Linked DNA regions of Homo sapiens: all the other regions are reported to be linked to region 1. Evidence: microRNA targets listed by miRTarBase, many of them from high-throughput screens and not tested one by one. Region 1 holds a microRNA gene; each other region holds the end of a gene's coding sequence.

What was found. The annotated mature microRNA hsa-miR-3934-5p reads UCAGGUGUGGAAACUGAGGCAG and lies in region 1 at 4,966-4,987, shown strand. An mRNA with a match to its seed (bases 2 to 7 or 8) in the 3' UTR can be bound and repressed. Matches are read on the target gene's strand: a 7mer-m8 pairs with bases 2 to 8, a 7mer-A1 pairs with bases 2 to 7 and ends in A, and an 8mer does both.
Region 2: the mRNA of TRIB1 is a reported target of hsa-miR-3934-5p. Seed matches in the 3' UTR shown: 7mer-m8 at 1,406-1,412.
Region 3: miRTarBase lists LTAP1 as a target of hsa-miR-3934-5p. Seed matches in the 3' UTR shown: 7mer-A1 at 2,082-2,088.

Annotation. Positions count from the first base shown.
Region 1 is chr6:33,693,187-33,700,304 of GRCh38, forward strand. MIR3934 (microRNA 3934) reads left to right here and starts at 4,942; the gene lies at 4,942-5,048. It overlaps ITPR3 (inositol 1,4,5-trisphosphate receptor type 3), which reads left to right. Exons shown (of 58, transcript NM_002224.4): 56 at 359-519; 57 at 1,738-1,899; 58 at 2,526-3,376. The coding sequence ends at 2,594. UQCC2 (ubiquinol-cytochrome c reductase complex assembly factor 2) reads right to left here. Exons shown (of 4, transcript NM_032340.4): 4 at 3,578-4,564. The coding sequence ends at 4,467. RefSeq lists enhancers at 1-461, 1,274-2,473, 4,370-5,345.
Region 2 is chr8:125,435,099-125,442,206 of GRCh38, forward strand. It overlaps TRIB1 (tribbles pseudokinase 1), which reads left to right. Exons shown (of 3, transcript NM_025195.4): 3 at 908-3,305. The coding sequence ends at 1,373. Among named protein-coding and RNA genes, the nearest start is that of TRIB1, 8.3 kb to the left of the region's middle.
Region 3 is chr1:154,201,812-154,208,919 of GRCh38, reverse strand. LTAP1 (lipid transport auxiliary protein 1) reads left to right here. Exons shown (of 7, transcript NM_001098616.3): 7 at 1,272-2,200. The coding sequence ends at 1,467. It overlaps CFAP141 (cilia and flagella associated protein 141), which reads left to right and starts at 2,587. Exons shown (of 4, transcript NM_001010979.3): 1 at 2,587-2,645; 2 at 3,282-3,322. The coding sequence starts at 2,613.

The DNA.
Region 1 (7,118 bases):
ATGAAGTGCTAGTCCCCTCACCAGCCACCTCGGGCTCAGGCAGGTGTCACCTGTATGGCCTGTAGGACCTCGCTCATTCAGCCATTCGGGCTTCCCCTGAGTTCGAGAAATTCTCGCGTTTACTCCTGGAGTCCTCGGTTGCTGCTGCGGGAGGGCTGCAGCTGCGGCAGGGCAGGATCTCCACTAAGTGGCTGCTGCTTTAAATAGAAGTGACCCAAATAGCCCAGAGCGAGCTGTTGGAAGCGCTCATCCCGAGAACAAATGCCTCCAACCCCCGGAAGCTGGGTCCCCTCCAGCAGGTGACCCTGCAGTGGCTCTTGAAGGCTGATGGTTTCATTCCCGCCCTCTGCACCCTCAGGTCTGGAGAGGGACAAGTTTGATAACAAGACAGTGTCATTTGAGGAACACATCAAGCTGGAGCACAACATGTGGAACTACTTGTACTTCATTGTGCTGGTCCGCGTGAAGAACAAGACCGACTACACGGGCCCTGAGAGCTACGTGGCCCAGATGATCAAGGTGTGAGCAGGGGCTGTGCCAGGCCTGTGGGCCCAAACCAGCCATTCTAGAGTCATCACTGTGCACCAGAGGCCTCATGGTTTTAGCTTCTGAGTACCCTGGGCCCTGGAGAGGAGTGGCCCTATCTGACTGTTGGCCCTAGGAGGCCAGGCAGAGGGGCTCGGACAGCTGCAGACACTTGTTGAAAGGTCAGCAGGGCGAGGAGCAGCAGCTGGAAGCAGCTCTGGGCTGCACGGAAGCCGCTGCTGCAGAGGGGCCTCCTCACACTTCTGGGTGTCAGGAAAAATCCCACAGCAAACCCATGCGCCCCGAAGAACACGTGTGGTATCCCTGGGCCTGTCGTGCAGTGATGCTGAGGAGGGGTGGAGTTGGGGAGACCCTGCCCGTGGCCAGTGATCTGTGGGCCGCTCTCAGGGAGTGTTTTCTAGCTCGGTGGGAAGGCAGGCTGCTTCCTAAAAAGTCTGAATTAGATGATCCTGGGCTGAAGGGGAGCCTGGAAAAACTTTAAAAATCACTTACAGAAATCAAATGTCATCTGTCCAATTTCTGTAATAATGGAGTGAAGGCAATGAATCATAAAGAAGGAATTATTTATCGTTTAGTCTGTATTTCAAACTGATCTTTGTGTACAGGTTTATCTGTTGGTCTGAGAATTCACAGCTTACTACAAGGAAGCTGAGAATTGCTTGGTGCCCCCTCCCCCCCCGACTCCTCTGTCCTGGGAAACGTGGCTTTGCCTCCCAGACACGTGTCAGATGCCAGCTCTCCTCAGCGGAGCCTCCTGATCCCTCAATTTGCCATCTGTCTGACTCGCGTCTTCCCGGGGCGTGGGGCGTGCTTGTCAGGCAGGCGGGCGGGAGGAAGGAAGGAAGGAGATCCAGGGTCTGTCTGGGTGCAGAGGCCTTCCTCCACCTCTCAGGGGGTGTTATGAGAGTAAACAGATGGTGCTGATACCAGCAAAGGACTCAAACTCAGCTGCCGACGCTGCCTAACGGAAGTCAGCCTGTCTCGGTGGCAGAGGGTTGACAAGAGGGTTGACTGCCAGCTCACTCTGGCCCCGGGGAGGACCAGGTCAATTCAGATTTTCCCATGACACATCCCTGACGAGTAGTTTTGTTAAGGGTGTGGCAGAAGCCTCCCCCCACATTACTGTTTTTCTAAATGAGGCCTTTCTAGGCCGGGCCCACGCCTGCTTAACCCACTGGTGATGTTTTTCAGAACAAGAACCTGGACTGGTTCCCCCGGATGCGGGCCATGTCCCTTGTCAGCAATGAGGGCGAGGGGGAGCAGAATGAGATTCGGATTCTCCAGGACAAGCTCAACTCCACCATGAAGCTGGTGTCCCACCTCACTGCCCAGCTCAACGAGCTCAAGGAGCAGGTGTGCACCCCGCCTGATCCCAGGCCCACCCTGGGTTCTATCCCTGGGCAGTCCCTGCCTGCCTTCATCCTTCCTGACCCACCCTCTTCCCCACTGGCCTCTGGCCCTGGGCCTGGATGAGAAGGCAGGTGCCAAACCCACTCTCCCCTGCATGGCAAGTCAGACTGGGGTTGACAACCCCTGCCTTGGGCCGCTAAAGACAAGGCCAAGTGGAAACTTTAGTACAGGGTGGTGGGGCCCTCTGTCTCTCATCCCCTTCCTCTGACAGCTGCCAGGTAGGTCCTTTGAGGGGATCCCCATCACTGGAGATGGGGGAGTTTAAGGCCCTCTTGCCTAGACATCCTCTTCTGCATCTGGCAGTGCCTGCATGAAGATGAGGCAGCCTCTGTTAGTGGGCTGGTTTCCCAGCTGCATCAAATCCAGGGTTTGTGACACGCTAATTGAGAACAAGGGTTTGGTGCTGACATCGACATCCTTAAAGCACCCCGAGGGGCCCTGGCCCGCCGCCAGTGCCGAATAGCAGCTGGGCCCACAGGGGAAGACGGGTGCCAAGCTCTTCCACAGCACCCATGGAGGGAAGGTGCCAGGCGGCCTGACCAGGCCTGTTGGCATCTGCTTAACCCTAGATGACGGAGCAGCGGAAACGCAGGCAACGCCTAGGCTTTGTGGATGTCCAGAACTGCATTAGCCGCTGAGGAGAGCCACCGAAGGCCCCAACAGGGGATGCTCATCACTGGAGACTGCGACTGGGAAGAACACTGCCCCCTCCCTCGGGTTGGGTGGCCCAGCCAGCTGGCCAGCCTCCACTCCCACTCTGCCAGACACCCTGACACCCACCCAGGCTTTGAAGAGCATGGAGGGGGAGCCTCAGAGCTGACAGTCCTGCTTAGAGCCCTTAAAAAGACTTGAAAGTTCACTGGGACTCAGTTTACCTTAATGCCTTAGCAGAAGATAAATCCTACCTAGAGACCTTTGTTCCTTAAAGCAATAACTGACAACTCTTTGTAGTCCTCCTTGTGGGTAGTTAAGAGTGGGGTCACCCCTTTAACTCCAAGCACTACATTTTGGCGGCTGCCGGCCTCTGGGGGAGGTGGCAGTTATGCTGTTACTAGTGATTTTAGGGCTTTGTTATTTAACTTATTTCAAGGGTGCTGTGCTCAGCCCTGCCCATGGCTGTGCAGCTCCCTCCGTGCCTCAGATCTGCTGTAGCCAGTGCAGACCTCACTGTCGTGTCCATGCCACCCCCGGCATGGCTCCAGGTGGCCTGGTGACTCCATGATGGACGATCTTGCTCCCAGGACCTGCCTCTTCCCAGGCTTCCTGGGGAAGAGTTGTACGCCCAGGCAACAAGGGCTGAGCTGCGCTTGCGTGGCTGTTTCATGACCGCTTGTTTTTCTCCTTTTGGTGTAATGTTTTACAAATCCTTTGGCCTGAGAACTAATATGTTAATTGCCTTAAATAAATTAATAGAAATCTAGTCCGTTAAAAAGGGATGTGTTTCCTGCACTCCCCCGGGGGCTGTGGGGATTAACAGGACACACTGGCAGAAGACAGGAACAAGAGCCCCTCCCTGCTGGCCTGGCCTCTCAGGCTCTCAGGAGATACGCTGAGTGACATCCTGTCTCAAGGGTCCTCCCCTGAGATTTGCCTACCCAGAACTGCATTTCGGCATAACTGGTTTCTACGGCAGTCCTGTCGATTTTATTTTATGCATTTCAGAACATCCTGAGGAGTCTAGACACAGACGAGGTTAAGAACCCACTTCCACTTTGTACCCACCAGGGCCGCTGTGGGCCCAGCCCTGTCCCTCACGGTTCCAGAGAGAAGGATGCTCAATATCAGTAAGAGCCAAGGTTCCATGGAATAATGAGGTGACCCTGTGTGTGTCCTCAGCCAGCAGGGCCTCTGACTTGTGGCCACCTACAGAACCTGCCCACAGTGCTGAAGCCAACTGCAGCTGAGGCCCCGCTTGGCCAAGGCCTGTCTATAGCTTCCCTGTCCCTTAAGCCAACTGGGCAATGTGGGTTTTTGCAAGGTCAGGGATAGAGGCCTAAGGTCCATCCTTCTCTGAGTCAGTGGGGATGAGGGCCAAGCAGGCTTTTTGCCTCTCTCGGCCTCACACCTCCCTACTGCTTTCTGTTTGCAACAGGATGCCCTTTTCAGTATTTACTGCTATTTTTGGCTTCCTCCCAGGAGCTCCTACAACAAAAGGGAGCCTGAGTATCTTGCCAGGAGACACCAGACCCGTGCCAGAGGGGCGGGGGCTCCCGTGGCAATGCAGGAAGCACCTTGTGCCGAGGCCCCATTACCCTCATCAGGCCCAGAGGGAAACCTGCATTTCCTCTCCCCAGGAGATTTCCCTACCCTGAGCAGCAGTCACAGCAGATAGCTCAATCACCATCCCTTCTCAGGCTGAAACTTTCTTTAGAGCAGCAAGGGCTTCCTTTCTGGGAAAGCTAGAGGAGATTCCCAAACCGTAAGGTCAAGGGGAAACTGGGGCAGTTTTATTGACGATGGCAATGTACAAGACTCCACACCTAGGTATGTGCACGAGGTAAGGCCTGAGCTCAGGCCTTATGATCCTCCTCAGGACCCTTGGGGGCAAACTTCTCCTGCAGTTTCTTCCACATGCCTTTATCTATTTCCTTAAGCTCTTCCAAGGTGTCTGCAAAAGGGGAAGACAAAAAGAGAGAGGGACTGAAGTCTAAAACTTGATGACATAGATTGGACCCACTGGGCTTTCCCGACACAAGCATGGCTTGCTTTTCACACAGTGTGTTCCTGAAAAAGGTGGAGACCCAGCTCCTGAAGAGCAGATCAAACAGGTAACAGAAGTGACCGCTTGCGGGGACTGAGCACTGTGTGCCAGACTCTGTGCCCAGCACGCTGTCAGTGGTCTCCTGCCCTCTCCTCACCCTCGGCATCAAAGCGGGATGTGCTGCTCGTTGCCCTGCTCCGTATGAGGGCAAAGAAATGGCCCTGCGCTGTCCGCTGTGCAACCCACAGACCCAGATGCTTCATCGCAAAATTTGGCCTGCTCCACACAGCCCTTCCTGTCCCCAGTTTTCAGGTGTGGAAACTGAGGCAGGAGGCAGTGAAGTAACTTGCTCAGGTTGCACAGCTGGGAAGTGGAGCAGGGATTTGAATCCTGGTGTGTGGACTCAGCACATGCTGTGGAGTTGAGCAGGCACTGGGAGGGGGATGGCCTTGGGCCTGAATCCGAGCCCATCATCTCCCACTCTGGGTCCCCTCAAGCAAATTACTTAACCCTCTACGCTTCGGGTTCCTCATCTGTAAAATGAAGATAAAAACACACATCTGCAGACAACTTGGGGAGAGGTGAAAAAGTAAGAAAAAAAAAACCACACGTACCTCAAAAGTTGTAAGGATTAAAGAAAAGCATGGAGGTAACTCGCTTGGCACACAGCCCGCACTCAATGAAAAGGCAGCCATCATCCACCACAATGCAGGCGGGAGGGGCTCTTGTTTAAGAACATACACGTCCCTACACCCAGGAACCAAAGCAGGGTTTCTTGGCCTTGGCACTACCAACACTTTGGGCCAGATAATTTTTCGTCGTGGGCTGGCCTGTGCATCACTGAAGGCTGTTTCAAAGCATCCTGGCCTCTACCCACTAATGCCAGTAGCACCGCTGCCCGCACCACCAGTTGTGACAACTAAAAATGTCTCCAGACATTGCCACATGTCCCCTGGGGGGCAAAACCATCCCCCCAGTACGGAACCATTTGTCTAAAGTCTCTAGGGCTAATGTTCCATGAAATCTAATTTTACGTGCATGTTAAATTTTAGATATTCTTATAATATTGTTTTGCTTTACCAGCCTAAATTTTCACGTTAACAAAACTACTGGAGAAAAAAAGAGTATCTTTTCTGACCAAAAAAGGTAACAGAAAAAAGCCCCTGCTCTGGAGCTTTTCCAGAAGTCCATGTTTCCAGTGTCCAGGTGGACACTGAGGCCTCCCTTAGGCGCTTTCCATGACCCCAATCCCAGGGTGGACACACACATAACCCAGAACACAGCACATTTCAGACTTGCCAGGCCCTCAAAGCCTCTCACTACAAGGTGCTGCAGGTCTTTTCTTGTCCTGTCAGAGGAAACATTTGGTAAGCTTACGCCACACAATTTGCAACAAAAATATGAGGCTTGCTGTGAAAACAAATTCTCAGCAAATTTCCTGAACTAAACTCGCTGCCAGAACAAGCTGCAGCGCGGACCAATGGCGGGACTATCTCCCAGCCTTCGTTGCTGCCTGTTTTCCACTTGCAGAGGCTGCCCTGAGGTGAACAAAACAGAGGGCAGAGGCAGGGCCTCTGGAACTTACTTCCGCCCTCACTTCAAGTTCAAACTTTGCTCAAACTGTCCAGGGCCCTCACAATAATGTGCATCAATGCTGCTAATTACACGGACCCAGGGATATAGGAGTAAATTTACACATTAAAAAAAATTGCCAATAAAGTGATTCTGCCTGGCCAAAATATCTTCACCACAGTTTCCCAGAGAGTACTGGAATAAAAATAGGGTTAGAGTTGACATGTAATAGCAGGTGACACCACCAGGTTTTAATCTCAGAAGAGAGTTTTCTAGAAGCCCAAATCCTCAAAACTTAAGTTGCTGAAGGCTGCCAGAAGAAGAGGAAAGACACATTTCTAGAATACCAGAAGGAAATGTGTCAGGGCCATGCCCTCCCAGAAAAGGTTAACCTATTTTTGTATATAATATACTTGGCAACAAAAATAGTAATTTTCCAGTACCTGCCTACTTCATCCCTGGCTCTCCGGCCCCCCTCCTTAGGGACAATGGAGATAGGGAAGTAAGGAAAGGACGGGCTTGGCAGGATGTTTCCTTTCTTGATAATCAGAGTCTATCAATGACTCTAAAACATACCTAGTTAAACTCATATCTAACCCACAGACCACGTCCCCTGGGTCACATAACTCTTAGGCGGATATCCCCAAACACGTTTATTGAATGGTTTTTTGTTTTAATTAAAACCTTCATTGTTTATAAAGCCCTCTTAAGACCATAAAAATAAAATTATTTTCCTTCCATCCTGATTTCAACTACTTCCATTTGGCAAATAGGTATTCCTCTGTTCCCTGATGCCCAGCCTTGAATTTAAAAGCCCTAAAGATAGATTTTCTTTTTTAAATAACGCCTTTGACCTTCTCCACAGTATATGGTCAAAATGCATGCGCCC
Region 2 (7,108 bases), not on the chromosome of region 1:
GGGGATCCAGGAGACTTGGGTGGCTGGTTCTGAATAAGGAGGCACCTGCAGCTTCATAAGAGAGCCTTTGACTGAAGGTGTTTTAGACTTTCGTTGTTACCTGAACAGAGACCCCCCCTGTAGAATACATATGCTCACATGTTGATGTGCCATCCCAGGGGGAGTGTGTGTCCCTGTGTAAGAATTTCAGGGTCCCTGCGTCCCTGAAATCCATCAGCCACTTTTGTTTGCTCGCATAACCTCTCTGTCCAGGCAAAGTGTTCTTTGCAGTTAAACACCCCAATAAATGTAATTAACATTCCTTGCAACTTTCCCATCCTAATTGTTGCAGCCTGGGCCCAGGAGGACAAAGTTTGCTCTGTGTGCATGTATCAGTGTGGGCACCAGCGCTGATGACCTGTGTGTAATAGCAGTGACTTTGGGCTCCGTGTTCTGTAATGCAGTGTGGGTCCAGGTAGCCCTGGCAGTCATAAGAGGGAAGATGGGTTCGTAGGATGCTCAGGCCCTCTCTGAAGAAGTAGGATATGCTGCTCTTCCCTGCTAGCTTTTGTAGAGAATGCAGCATTCTGAGACAGGCTCCCAGTTCTGCAATGGGAACTTAGTAAATTGCGTAACTCCTATTAGGATATCTCTTGTAAGCTCCAGCATTATGAATACTATTTGGGGCTTTGCCTCATACCCTCCACCCCAGGCGCTCTGCCGATACTTTGCAAACATTTATTGCAGTTCGTGTTAGTTTGTGAAATCAGGAGCCCTCGGTAGTTGCAGGGCACTGCTTACTGGACGAAGGGGTAAATAGCATTCCTGGAGCCTTTGCTGTTAGTGCCTGTGGGCGCTGTTATTGGGAAGGCTTTGTTTTTCATAGCAGCTGGTGTGGAAATAATGGCTTGGTTCCTCTCTCTTGCAGAACCCAGCTTAGACTAGAAAGTCTAGAAGACACACACATAATGAAGGGGGAAGATGATGCTTTGTCAGACAAACATGGCTGCCCAGCCTACGTGAGCCCTGAGATCCTCAACACCACTGGGACCTACTCCGGAAAGGCTGCGGACGTTTGGAGCCTGGGGGTGATGCTCTACACCCTTCTGGTTGGACGATACCCCTTCCATGACTCAGACCCCAGTGCCCTTTTCTCCAAAATTCGGCGTGGACAGTTCTGCATTCCTGAGCACATTTCCCCCAAAGCCAGGTGCCTCATTCGCAGCCTCTTGAGACGGGAGCCCTCCGAGAGACTCACTGCCCCCGAGATCCTACTGCACCCCTGGTTTGAGTCCGTCTTGGAACCCGGGTACATCGACTCAGAAATAGGAACTTCAGACCAGATTGTTCCAGAGTACCAGGAGGACAGTGACATTAGTTCCTTCTTCTGCTAATCCCCAAAACCTCAGAAACCTCATAATTCTTAACACCTGGCATTTCCATTTCTAAAGATGGACAGGCCCTTTGGCGTGGTACCAACCAGATAATGACTGCATCAGGATGAAAGCTGCTGAACTCGGCATGGCGCCTCCTCTTCTCTGTTGGGATGAGTGACTTTATTGATTTGAGCAGCATATGCTGTGATTGGCTGCCCTGCAAATTTGTTTCCCTTAAGGAACCCTCACCAACTATCTCTGCTGGATTTGGGAGTTCCGCATCTTTTGTGGAGGGCAGAGTATGGACATCTTACACCCGGTGGTCAAGTGTGTAATAAACTTGAGCATTCGAATGGGAGAAAAAGCAAATCGCACAATGACATATTTTGAGTAATAACCGTATTTTTCACAGGGTGACAAATTGGGCCAATAAATCTGCCATCTTTGAACTCATCTTTGGTGGCTAGACTGCTACGGCAGCTTCTCTGATGGGAAAGTTCCTTTTTTGGCTTAACACTCACCCTTTCTTCACACTCACATTTACCAATGACTCTGCTCCGTTTTTGGAGCAGACTGTTTTAAGTTGCTCAGGAGCCTGATGGAACCATGAACCGAGACTCTTCTCTGTTTCCTGCCAAGACCTCATCTGCACTAATGCCTTCTCCCTGACCTTGACACTTCCCCCTTTAGCTATAAAAGCACTTACCAGCCGAACGTGGAACAGTATCACAAAAGATTCCATCTCCCAACGATTTCAGAACTCTGAGCTCAGAGAGACTCCAGATTTTAAAAAATAATTTGAGTGCTTGGAAACTATTAGCTTTTTAAGTTCCTTCCAAATATGTTAGTACCTACCCTTTACTTTTTCCCCAAGACCATCTCAGGGTGGAGCATTCTGTCTAAGAGAAGAAAGATAAGGAGGCTCCCACCCACCTCTCCCAAGAGCAGACATTAAACATCTTTGTGCTTTGAAGAGAGTGAATTTTGGATAGTCTTGTGATTCTCAGACTAACTTCCAGAATTATACTTTAACCCCTCCCAGATATGGTCCGCCTTTGGCATTGTGTGTACATCTGCAGTTTTGCATGGTGGGTTGTTAATATTTCAAATGTGTGGTTTATGAATACGTCTGTATAATCGGCTTCTGGAGTGAAACAGCAAACCCCAAATCTTCAAAGTTGGAAGGAACTTTAAAAATCATCCGGTCCAATCTCTTTCCTCTTTCTGCCACCTCCCAAGGCAGAAATCCCCTCTTCAGCTTCTTTTGTAGGTGGGAATCCAGCCTCTGTTAGATATGTCCAGAGATGGAAACTCACTCCCCTACAAAAGATGGAGCTTAATGGAGAAATTGCAACTTTCATTAAAAAACAAATTCAGATGAAATATCAGTAACTGTCTTGGACAGTGCTGAAATCAGGTGGTTAAACGGGTAAACAAAATATACTGTATTTTGAGAAATGGCACAAAAACAGGCAGTCATCTTTAAGGGCTATGCCTAGGCAAACTACTAACATGCATTGTGAGAATGCCGTGTATACCTCACGTACTGTGTACTTTGTACATATATTTTACCTTTTATACCTATGTTCGATTTTGTTTTGTTTTGTTTTGTTCTGGCTTTGAGGCTTGTTTTGTTGTCTGTGTCTGTCTGAATAACCTGCGTGTCTAAAACCACGTGAAATGTGAATGATTATTGGCAATATTACCTTGACAGAATCATGGGACTTTGAGAAGAGGGAGGACAGAGGCCTCTGTCGCACTAACGCTCTCGTGGTTGCTCGACTGTTGTATCTGTGATACATTATCCGACTAAGGACTCTGGGCTGGCAGGGCCTTCTGCCGGGAAAGCTAGAAACACTAGGTTCTTCCTGTACATACGTGTATATATGTGAACAGTGAGATGGCCGTTTCTGACTTGTAGAGAAATTTTAATAAACCTGGTTTCGTAAATAGGTGTGGTGAATTTCTTTCGAGTTCCATCTGCTTTGCCTTTTGCAATTTCATGCAGAGGTTGCAAAGGTCTCTGGCCTCAGGACTTACAGTCTAGTTGGGGGTGAGCAGCAAGGGGAAGGTGGAAAAGTAGAGATGATGAGGATCATCGATGACCTTTGGCAGACTTGAACCCATTTGCTTTTCTCATTTCAGTGGGCAAATTTATTTTGATGGATGAAGCCCATTGGGTGTTGATACGTGCTTTGGGTTGAATTTAGACTCGGGAAACATTTTTTATTTTTTATACTCTTTCATAGCAGAATCAGAATCAAGAAACGTTTGAAGGTGAGCATTCATAAATTAACCTTGAGTTGTAAAAATCAGCTTGTCTTTTTTGGGCCGTGGACCCTTGAGAATTTGATAAAGCTATGACCACTCCTGAGAACAGTGTCACATGTATAAAACAAAATTTTGTTATCATTGCAGAGGTTCACACAGATCTCTGAAGGCATCATGGGACTTCCGATTGTGAACCAATCCCTCTTCATTAGACTTAATTAAAATGGCTAAGCAAACCATTTTCTTTTTTTTCTTCTCTTATTTTTTGAGACGGAGTCTTGCTCTGTCGCCCAGGCTGGAGTGCAGTGGCGCAATCTCGGCTCACTGCAACCTCTGTCTCCCAGGTTCAAGTGATTCTCCTGCCTCAGCCTCCTGAGTAGCTGGGACTACAGGCGCCCGACACCATGCCCGGTTAATTTTTGTATTTTTAGTAGAAACGGGGTTTCACCATATTGGCCAGGCTGGTCTTGAACTCCCAACCTCATGATCCACCCACCTTGGCCTCCCAAAGTGCTGGGATTACAGGCGTGAGCCACTGCGCCCGGCCAAGCAAGGCATTTTCTTTCTTTTACTTTTTTCTTTCCATAAGTGTGAAAATGGAAATAAAAGCAAGGAAAATACTAAGGTGACATTAATTTGAATCACAAAAGTAGAGAAAGGAAAAGAGTTTTTTATTGTTTATAGCTTAACTATTTATAGCTTCACTTCAGAATCTAGTCTAAATGAAGTAAATTTGTATCCAGATTGATTTTTAAAAATACTTCACATTGTAAAATGTAACAACAGAAAAATGCACATATAAGTGTGTAGCTCAGTAAATTTTCACAAACAACACACAGGCATAACCAATAGATCTAGAAAGCAAAACACTGGGAGGGCCTCAGGAACCTCTGCCTGCCCTTTTCAATTTTTGCCTGGTGCCTGCTCTAAGCGTAACCACCATGGGATGGGATTTTAATTCTAACCTGTATAAGTTAGGATGAGGACCAATTCATCAACTCTGGACTCATACGAAGAGGCAGACAGAAGTTAGTGATGACACAATTACCCTTTTTTAGGACTCAGGCTGGGATTGGCCAGGAAAGCAGACACTGAAGTTAGAGCAACTCAGGCCTTGTGACCCAGGAACTTAAGAAATGTAAAAGTCATCTCAGAAGCAACGTGGGAAATGGCCAAATGCCTGGGTAGCTTAGGAACTCAGAAGTTGGGGGTTGGTCTCTGGCCATCCCATGAATAGGACTTTAAACCCCAAAGTTCCTGAAGCAGGCCTCACAACAGACCTTGTTGCCTGCTCCAGTGAACCCAGACAAGGCTCAGCGTGACTTCTTGGGCATTCAGGATGCTAATACTTCGGACTTCACCGAGGTTTTAATCTAAGGATTTCAAAAGACTTTGCAAGCAATTAAGGTTATAACACCTCTTTGTACTGTTGTTGCATGAACCAGATGGACAGAAATATGGGTCAGGATTGGCTGGGATGACATGTGATACCACAAATCCATACATTTAATCTCTTCTAAGGTTGGAACAAATCTGGGGCAATTGCAACCAGTTAAATTATATAAGGTCAGAATGAGTGTGCTGAAAAGCTGGCTGCTTTTATTTTCCCCTGTGTCATCAACATACTTGTCATTTGAGGAAGTCATCCAAGTAACATCTCAATAACCTTTTATTCATGTCATATTTTCTGGAAGTTTCTCCTCTCCTCCCCAGGGAGTCACAGCACATGAGTGAAACAGGCAAGTCAAATATTTCCCTGAAGTTGAAAAAACAGAGGCTCAAACGTCTTTCAGTAGCTACTCAGGAGTAAGCAGCTCAGAGCTGGGATATGAACTTGGGTCTTTGGACTCCATGCCCAATGTTGTTGCTCTGCCTACACACCACCACACAAAGTCTCCTGGTAAGAATAATGATGAGAGAAAGTGGTTCAAGACAAATACAAATACTGAATTTTTAGCTCCACAAATGTCTTCAAATGACCCAGTATGTCAATTATAAATGTGTAGGCATTATGGAAGATGAGCAATCCATTATTCATTCAACAAACATTTACTGGGCACCTACCATGTGCCAGACATTGTGGTAGACCCTTGGGAAATAGATGACTGAGGCTCAGTTCTGGCTCACTGAATGGAAAGCTCCAAGAAGTCAGGGAGTGTGACAGTCTTGTTCTCCCCTGGCTCCTCAGCACCAGCACAGTGCCTTCCACAAGAAATTTGTCAAAAGCCAACATGGGCCAGGTGTGGTGGCTCATACCTGTAATCTCAGCACTAGCACTTTGGGAGGCCAAGGCAGGAAGATCACCTGAGGCCAGCTGGAGACTAGCCTGGGCAACAACAAAACCTCATATACATGTATATATACACACACACACACACACACACACACACACACATATATACACACACACACACATATATATATATATATAAAATATATTATATACATATATATATGCATGCCAATATGGATGGATCGGTGGGTGGGTAGATGGGTGCATGGGTGGGTGGGTGGGTGAATGGATGGATGGATGAGTGGACAGGTAGGTGGATGAATGGCAATCCCCTAGCAGCTCAGAGTCTAATGGACCTCTAAGTCAAAGAGCCAAGGGCACAGAAGTGGAAGTCTTGTGACTAGGATCTCTTCCTAGTGCCAAAGTTTTTTTTGCTATATGACTGTGAATAAGCAGTCTGCTGGTTCTTATTTGCTCATCTTTTTTAAATTTTTAATTTTTTGAGATGGAGTCTCACTCTTTTCCCAGGTTAGAGTGCAGTGGCATGATCTCAGCTCACTGCAACCTCTGCCTCCCTGGTTCAAGTGATTCTTTTGCCTCAGTCTCCCTAGTAGCGGATTACAGGCACCCACCACCACACCCAGCTAATTTTTGTATTTTTAGTAGAGACAGGGTTTTACCATGTTGGCCAGGCTGGTCTCGAACTCCTGACCTCAAGTGATCTGCCCGTCTCGGCCTCCTAAAGTGCTGGGATTACAAGCATGAGCCGTTCTGCCCAACCAAGTGCTGCATACTTTCAAATGGCCAGATCTCTACCAGATCTTGTGTGAACTCAGGGCAAGATCTCACTTACCACTAAGGGGATGACCCAGAGCCATTCACGAAGCATCCACCTCCATGATCCAAATAGCTCCCACCAGGCCCCATCTCCAACATTGGAGATTACAATTCAACATGACATTTTCACAGGGACAAATATCCAAACCGTATCAGGCATTGCAGCAATGAAGAGTATGGAGTTGGCTTTTCAGCATGGCTTTGACTGGGAAAAGGAGGATCCCCACCACCCCCCAAAAAAGAGGAGTGGGATTTCATTACTAACCCCTGGCAACTGCCCACATCAGATTTCAGTTGATTCTCTAATGATTTGATTGCAGTCAACAACTTAGCGGTCCTAGAAGCATTACCTCTCAATCCTGCCAGACGTTTTGCAGTACACATCTTATTCTACCCTCTCAGTAACCCTGTG
Region 3 (7,108 bases), not on the chromosome of region 1:
AAAAATTGGCTGGGCATTGTGGTATGCACCTGCAATCCCCAGCTACTCGGGAGGCCGAGACAGGTCGCTTCAACCTAGGAGGCAGAGGTTGCAGTGAGCCAAGATTGTGCCACTGCACTCCAGCCTGAGCAACAGAGAAAAAGACTCCATCTCAAAAACAAAAAATTATGTTTGATTTGTAGTTTCTAGGAATGTTCATTGGGTTTAGTGAAGAGTATAGGCTTTGAAATCTGACAAACTTAGGTTTGAATCCCAGGTCTGTCACTTAACTAGTTTTGTGACCTCATACAAGCTAATTATTGGACCCTTAGTTTCCTAATCTGCAAAACAAGGTGATACCTATATTGGGGATACCTGTCTCTGAAAAAAAAGCTTGAGCCAGAGGCAAGAACTCTGGGAAATTGGTTTCTCTGCTGCTAGTTGTTTTTGGTATGAGTAGGTGTGTGTCAGGGTACCCAAACAGGGCCTTTATTCTGTCACCCAGGCTGGAGTGCTGCTACTTTTTTAGGGTGTGTGTGAGAGAGAGAGACAGGGTCTCAGTCTGTCGCCCAGACTGGAGTGCAGTGGCACATTCATGGCTCACTGCAGCCTCGAATTCTGGGTTCAAGCGATCCTCCTGCCTCAGCCTCCTGAGGAACCAGGACTACAGGTGCTTGCCACCATACCTGGCTAATTTTTTGCAGAGATAGGGTCTCACTTTGTTTCCCAGACTGGTCTCAAACTCCCCTGGGCTCAAGCGATCTCTGGCCTCTGCCTCCTGAAGTGCTGGGATTACAGGTATAAGTGACCATGCCCAGCCTCTCTGCTACTTTTTTTTTTTTTGAGATGGAGTCTTGCTCTGTCACCCAGGCTGAAGTGCAGTGGCGCAATCTTGGCTTGCAACCTCTGCCTCCTGGGTTCAAGTGATTCTCTTGCCTCAGCCTCCCGAGTAGCTGGGATTACAGGCACCCGCCACCACTCCCAGCTAATTTTTGTATTTTTAGTAGAGACAGGGTTTCACCATGTTGGCCAGGCTGGTCTCGAACTCCTGACCTCAAACAATCCACCTGCCTGGGCCTCCCAAAGTGCTGGGATTACAGGCGTGAGCCACCGCGCTCAGCCTCTTGTATTTCTAAGCTACTAGATGGGGTTTTAGTAACTAGTTTACAAAATAGGACAGATAGGACACAAATAACTATTTGTGACTATTGCTGCATTTATGGCCTGGGATAAGCCCTGATTTCTTTGATTAGTCCTCATTCTGTCAATGACCTCCCCTCTCTGTTCTTCAGGGTTAAAGCACGAATTGGGAGCTCTCAGCGACATCACCAGTCAGCAGCCAAAGACCTAACTCAGTCCCCTGAGGTCTCCCCAACAACCATCCAGGTGACATACCTCCCCTCCAGTCAGAAGAGTAAACGTGCCAAGCACTTCCTTGAATTGAAGAGCTTTAAGGATAACTATAACACATTGGAGAGTACTCTGTGACGGAGCTGAAGGACTCTTGCCGTAGATTAAGCCAGTCAGTTGCAATGTGCAAGACAGGCTGCTTGCCGGGCCGCCCTCGGAACATCTGGCCCAGCAGGCCCAGACTGTATCCATCCAAGTTCCCGTTGTATCCAGAGTTCTTAGAGCTTGTGTCTAAAGGGTAATTCCCCAACCCTTCCTTATGAGCATTTTTAGAACATTGGCTAAGACTATTTTCCCCCAGTAGCGCTTTTTTCTGGATTTGCATTCAGGTGTTATTCTTAATGTTTCTGTCAAAGCTTCTTAAAAATCTTCACTTGGTTTCAGCCATAGTTCACCTTCCCTGTTCCAGGTTTATTTAATTCCAAAGGTGAGAGTTGGAGTGAGATGTCTTCCATATCTATACCTTTGTGCACAGTTGAATGGGAACTGTTTGGGTTTAGGGCATCTTAGAGTTGATTGATGGAAAAAGCAGACAGGAACTGGTGGGAGGTCAAGTGGGGAAGTTGGTGAATGTGGAATAACTTACCTTTGTGCTCCACTTAAACCAGATGTGTTGCAGCTTTCCTGACATGCAAGGATCTACTTTAATTCCACACTCTCATTAATAAATTGAATAAAAGGGAATGTTTTGGCACCTGATATAATCTGCCAGGCTATGTGACAGTAGGAAGGAATGGTTTCCCCTAACAAGCCCAATGCACTGGTCTGACTTTATAAATTATTTAATAAAATGAACTATTATCAAATAAAACGTATGAATCAGTCCTTTATAGTTGTCTTTTAATAAAACAGGCATTTGATAATGTTATCTGCACATTTCTAACAGGGTATAGGGCATGAGGATTTGCCTCCAGAGAATTGGTGGGACTGTGTGCATACCCTGGACCTACGACCATACACATACTCCTTGGGACCCTAGCACAAGAAATCCTAAAATCAGGACTGTGGCCCTTGCTCATAGATGCCTGTGTCACCAACAGAAGGCTGCAGAACAAGGATTCTCTCAAGGTTTCTGGGGCAACAGGCCAGGTGGCCAATCAACTCCTAGGCCCAGGGTTATTGTTGGAGGTGTAAATGTTACTATGACTACTGAAACCTTGGTTACTGAACTAAACAGAGGAGCCTGTCAGTCTCCTCAGACTGTATCAAGCAAATCTATAGACATGTCTGTGGAAAAGATGACAAAAGTAGAAGAGGTATGCAGAGTTGGAAGGAGGGGCTGGGTTGAAGTTTGATGAAGTTTCCAGATCAATTTACTATAAGTGCATCTTTTACTGGGAAAGGCTTTTGATGTAACAAGGGTATAATGTAGTTAGTAACAGGAGTGGGAGGCTGTGTCTAGTACACAGTAGGTATTCAAATATGTGTTCTATCCAACCCCTGCGTGTTTTCTTTGATCCATTCTGAAAGTAGAGCTTTCCTCTCCCTATTTCCCCCCAGGAAATTGCTTTCTCAAAAAGGTCTATGTGGCTGGGTGCGGTGACTCACGCCTGTAATCCTATCACTTTGGGAGGCTGAGGTGGGCGGATCACCTGAGGTCAGGAGTTCGAGACTAGCCTGACCAACATGGAGAAACCCCATCTCTACTAAAAATACAAAATTAGCCCGGCATGGTGGTGCATTCCTATAATCTCAGCTACTCGGAGGCTGAGGCAGGAGAATCGCTTGAACCCGGGAGGCGGAGATTGCGGTGAGCCGAGATCACGCCACTGCACTCTGGCCTGGGCAACAAGAGCAAAACTCTGTCTCAAAAAAAAAAAAGGTCTATGTCTCTCATTAGAATAGAGGTTCTGGAGACTGAGGCAGATCAACAGAACTACCTTTTCTTGCAGAGTTTTCAAAAGGCCATGGGACTTAAGAAGACGGTCGACAGGTAATCTGCTTCTATCCCCTCCCTTTACCTTTGAGCTTGACCTTTCCACTCTGCTGTCTTCCCTGAGCCACCTCCCAACTCTGCTGCATCTCTTTAGGGGCTCATCAAGAGGAAAACAGATGCGGAAGGGGTGAGAAGCAGCCTTGTCCTCAAAGCAAATGAGATCAGCCTCTTAGTGCCTACTAGGTTAGGTGATATAGATTGGTTTTTATTGTCCCCTGCCTCATTCTCTGGAGAAAAATTGAAGCATGTTTTTATTTTCTTTTTTTATCAAGAATTCAAGTATTTGTTGCCTGGCTTTGTACTAATTATGTGGTTGGTAGTGCAGTATTTGTTGAACCAGTGAATGAGAAGATTCACAAGACTGGGCTACGTATCCTTTTCACCCTGATGAACTTTTGAAAAAACTGATGCAGCCGGGCGCGGTGGCTCACGCCTGTAATCCTAGCACTTTGGGAGGCTGAGGCAGGAGGATTGCCTGAGCTCAGGAGTTCAAGACCAGCCTAGGCAACATGGTGAAACCCTGTCTCTACTAAAATACAAAAGAAGTTAGCCAGGCATGGTAGTGTGCGCCTGTAGTCCCAGCTACTCGGGAGGCTGAGGCAGGAGAATTGCTTGAACTTAGGATGCGGAGGGTGCAGTGAGCCAAGATCGCACCACTGCACTCCAGCACTCCAGCCTGGGTGACAGAGCAAGACTCCGTCTCTACAAAAAAAAAAAAAAAAACACTGATGCAAGCCTGGCATGGTGGTTCACACCTATAATCCCAGCACCTTGGGAGGCCGAGGCAGGGGGATTGCTTGAGCCCAGGAGCTCGAGACCAGCCTGGGCAACATAGGAAAACCCTGTCTCTACCAAAAAAATTAAAATTAGCTAGGTGTGGTGGTGCATGCCTGTAGTCTCAGCCACTCAGGAGACTGAAGCAGGAGGATCAGTTGAGCTCAGGTCAAGTGATGCCACCACTGCATTCTAGCCTGGGTGAGAGAGGAAAACCCTGTCTCAAAACAAAACAAAATGAGCTGGGCACATTGGCTCATGTCTGTAATCCCAGCACTTTGGGAGGGCAAGGCAGGTGGATTGCTTGAGCTCAGGAGTTCGAGACCAGCCTGGGCAACATGGCAAGACCCCCATCTCTACCAAAAAACTTAATTTAAATAAATAAATAAGCACTGATGCCTAGTTCTTAACCCTAGGAGATTCTGATAAAAGTGGTCTGAAATGGGATAGGAGAAGCCTTTTTTTAAGGTTTCACGGGTTATATCCAGAGCTAGCAAGGATGTGAAGAAACAAGAACATATATGATTTTAATAGGAGTCTAGGTTGATACAGCCATGTTTACAAAGGCAGTTTGATAAAATCTATCAAAATTTAAATTTACATATCCATTGAACTGGCAAAAATAGGAATTTATCTTAAATATACATACTTGGAAAAGCACTAGAAGGTACATACACAAGAATGTTCATGACTATTGCTTTTATTTATTTATTTATTTATTTATTTATTGAGATGGAGTTTCGCTCTTGTTGCCCATGCTGGAGTGCAGTAGCACGATCTCAGCTCGCTGCAACCTCCGCCTCCTGGGTCTAAGCAATTCTCCTGCCTCAGCCTCCTGAGTAGTTGGGATTACAGGTGCCCGCCACCACACCTGGCTAATTTTTGTATTTTCAGTAGAGTCGGAGTTTCACCACGTTGGGGTTTCGCCATGTTGGCCAGGCTGTTCTCAAACCCCTGACCTCAAGTAATCGGCCTGCCTTGGCCTCCCAAAGTGCTGGAATTATAGGCGTGAGCCACCACGCCCGGCCTGATTACATGTTTTTTAAAAAAGAAGATGTACTTCCCAGTTTATGATAGAAACATTTTCTGAAAACATTCACAAGTAGCTGGGTGTGGTGGCTCATACTTGTAATCCCAGCACTTTGGGAGACCAAGGCAGAGGATCACTTGAGTGCAGGAGTTTGAGACCAGCCTGGGTAACAGTGAGACTCCGTCTCTACAAAAAAATAAAAATTAGCCAGGCACACACCTGTTGTCCTGGCTATTTAGACAGCTGAGGTAGAAGGATTGCTTGAGCCTAAGAGGTTGACATTGTAGTGATCCATAATCACACACTGCACTCCAGCCTAGGCAACAGAATGAGACCCTGTCTCAAAAAAATATATATGCAAAAGTTACCTGGGCGTGGTGGCACACGCCTATAATCCCAGCTACCCAGGAGGCTGAGGCAGAAGAATTGCTTGAACCTGGGAGGCAGAGGTTGCAGTAACCAGAGATCGCACCACTGCACTCCAGCCTGGGCAACAGAGCAGGACTCTGACTCAGAAAAAAAAAAAAGTAAAAACTACAGTCATTCCCAACAAAGTATATATATATATATATATATATATATATATATATATATATATATATATATATATATATATATTTGCCCAGTCAGAGATAACAACTTTTTTTTTTTTTTGAGGCAGAGTCTCTCTAAGACAGAGTCTTACTCCACCACCCAGGCTAGAGTGCAGTGGTGCAATCTCGGCTCACTGCAGCCTCCACCTCCTGGGTTCAAGTGATTCTCGTGCCCCAGCCTCCTGGGGAGCTGGGATTACAGGTGTGTGGCACCACGCTCGGCTAATTTTTGTATTTTTAGTAGAGATGGGGTTTCACCATGTTGGCCAGACTGGTCTTGAACTCCTGGCCTCAAGTGATCTGCCCGCCTCAGCCTCCCGAAGTGCTGGGATTACAGGCATGAGCCATTGCACCCAGAAAGTTTTTACTTTTCACTTAATGTATTTTTTTTTTCCTTGGGACGGAGTCTTGCTCTGTCGCCCAGGCTGGAGTGCAGTGGCACCATCTTGGCTCACTGCAAGCTCTGTCTCCTGGGTTCACGCCATTCTTCTGCCTCAGCCTCCCGAGTAGCTGGGACTACAGGCACCCGCCACTGCGCCCAGCTAATTTTTTTATATTTTTAGTAGAGACGGGGTTTCACCGTGTTAGTGAGGATGGTCTCGATCTCCTGACCTCGTGATCTGCCCGCCTGGGCCTCCCAAAGTGCTGGGATTACAGGCATGAGTCACCGCGGCCGGCCTCACTTAATGTATTTCTGTGTAGATTCAATTTTTTCAACATGTGGAAAATGTACTTTTGATTTTTTAAAAATGCCAACAGTAGATATATGTACATGCATGATGTATATTTATATTCTTTCTATATATTAAAAAACTTAAAACTGGCCTGGCATGGTGGCTCACTCCTGTAATCCCAGCACTTTGGGAGGCTGAGGCAGGCTGATCACTTGAGGTCTGGAGTTCGAGACCAGCCTGGCCAACATGGCAAAACCCCACCTCTACTAAAAATTTAAAAATTAGCAGCCAGGCATGGTGGCTTACGCCTGTAATCCCAGCACTTTGGGAGACTGAGACAGGTGGATTACATGAGGTCAGGAGTTCAAGACCAGCCTGGCCAACATGGTGAAACCTCTGTCTCTACTAAAAATATGAAAATTAGCTGGGCGTGGTGGCATGCACCAATAATCCCAGCTACTCAGGAGTCTGAGGCAGGAGAATTGCTTGAGCCCAGGAGACAGAGGCTGTAATGAACCCAGATTGCGCCACTGCACTCCAGCCTGGCTGACACAGTGAGACTCTGTCTCCAAAAAAAAAAAAAAAATTACCTGGGCGTGGTGGTGGGCGCCTGTAATCCCAGCTACTCAGGAGGATGAGGCATGAGAATTGCTTGAACCTGGGAGGCAGAGGTTGCAGTGAGCCAAGATCGGGCCATTGCACTCTGGCCTGG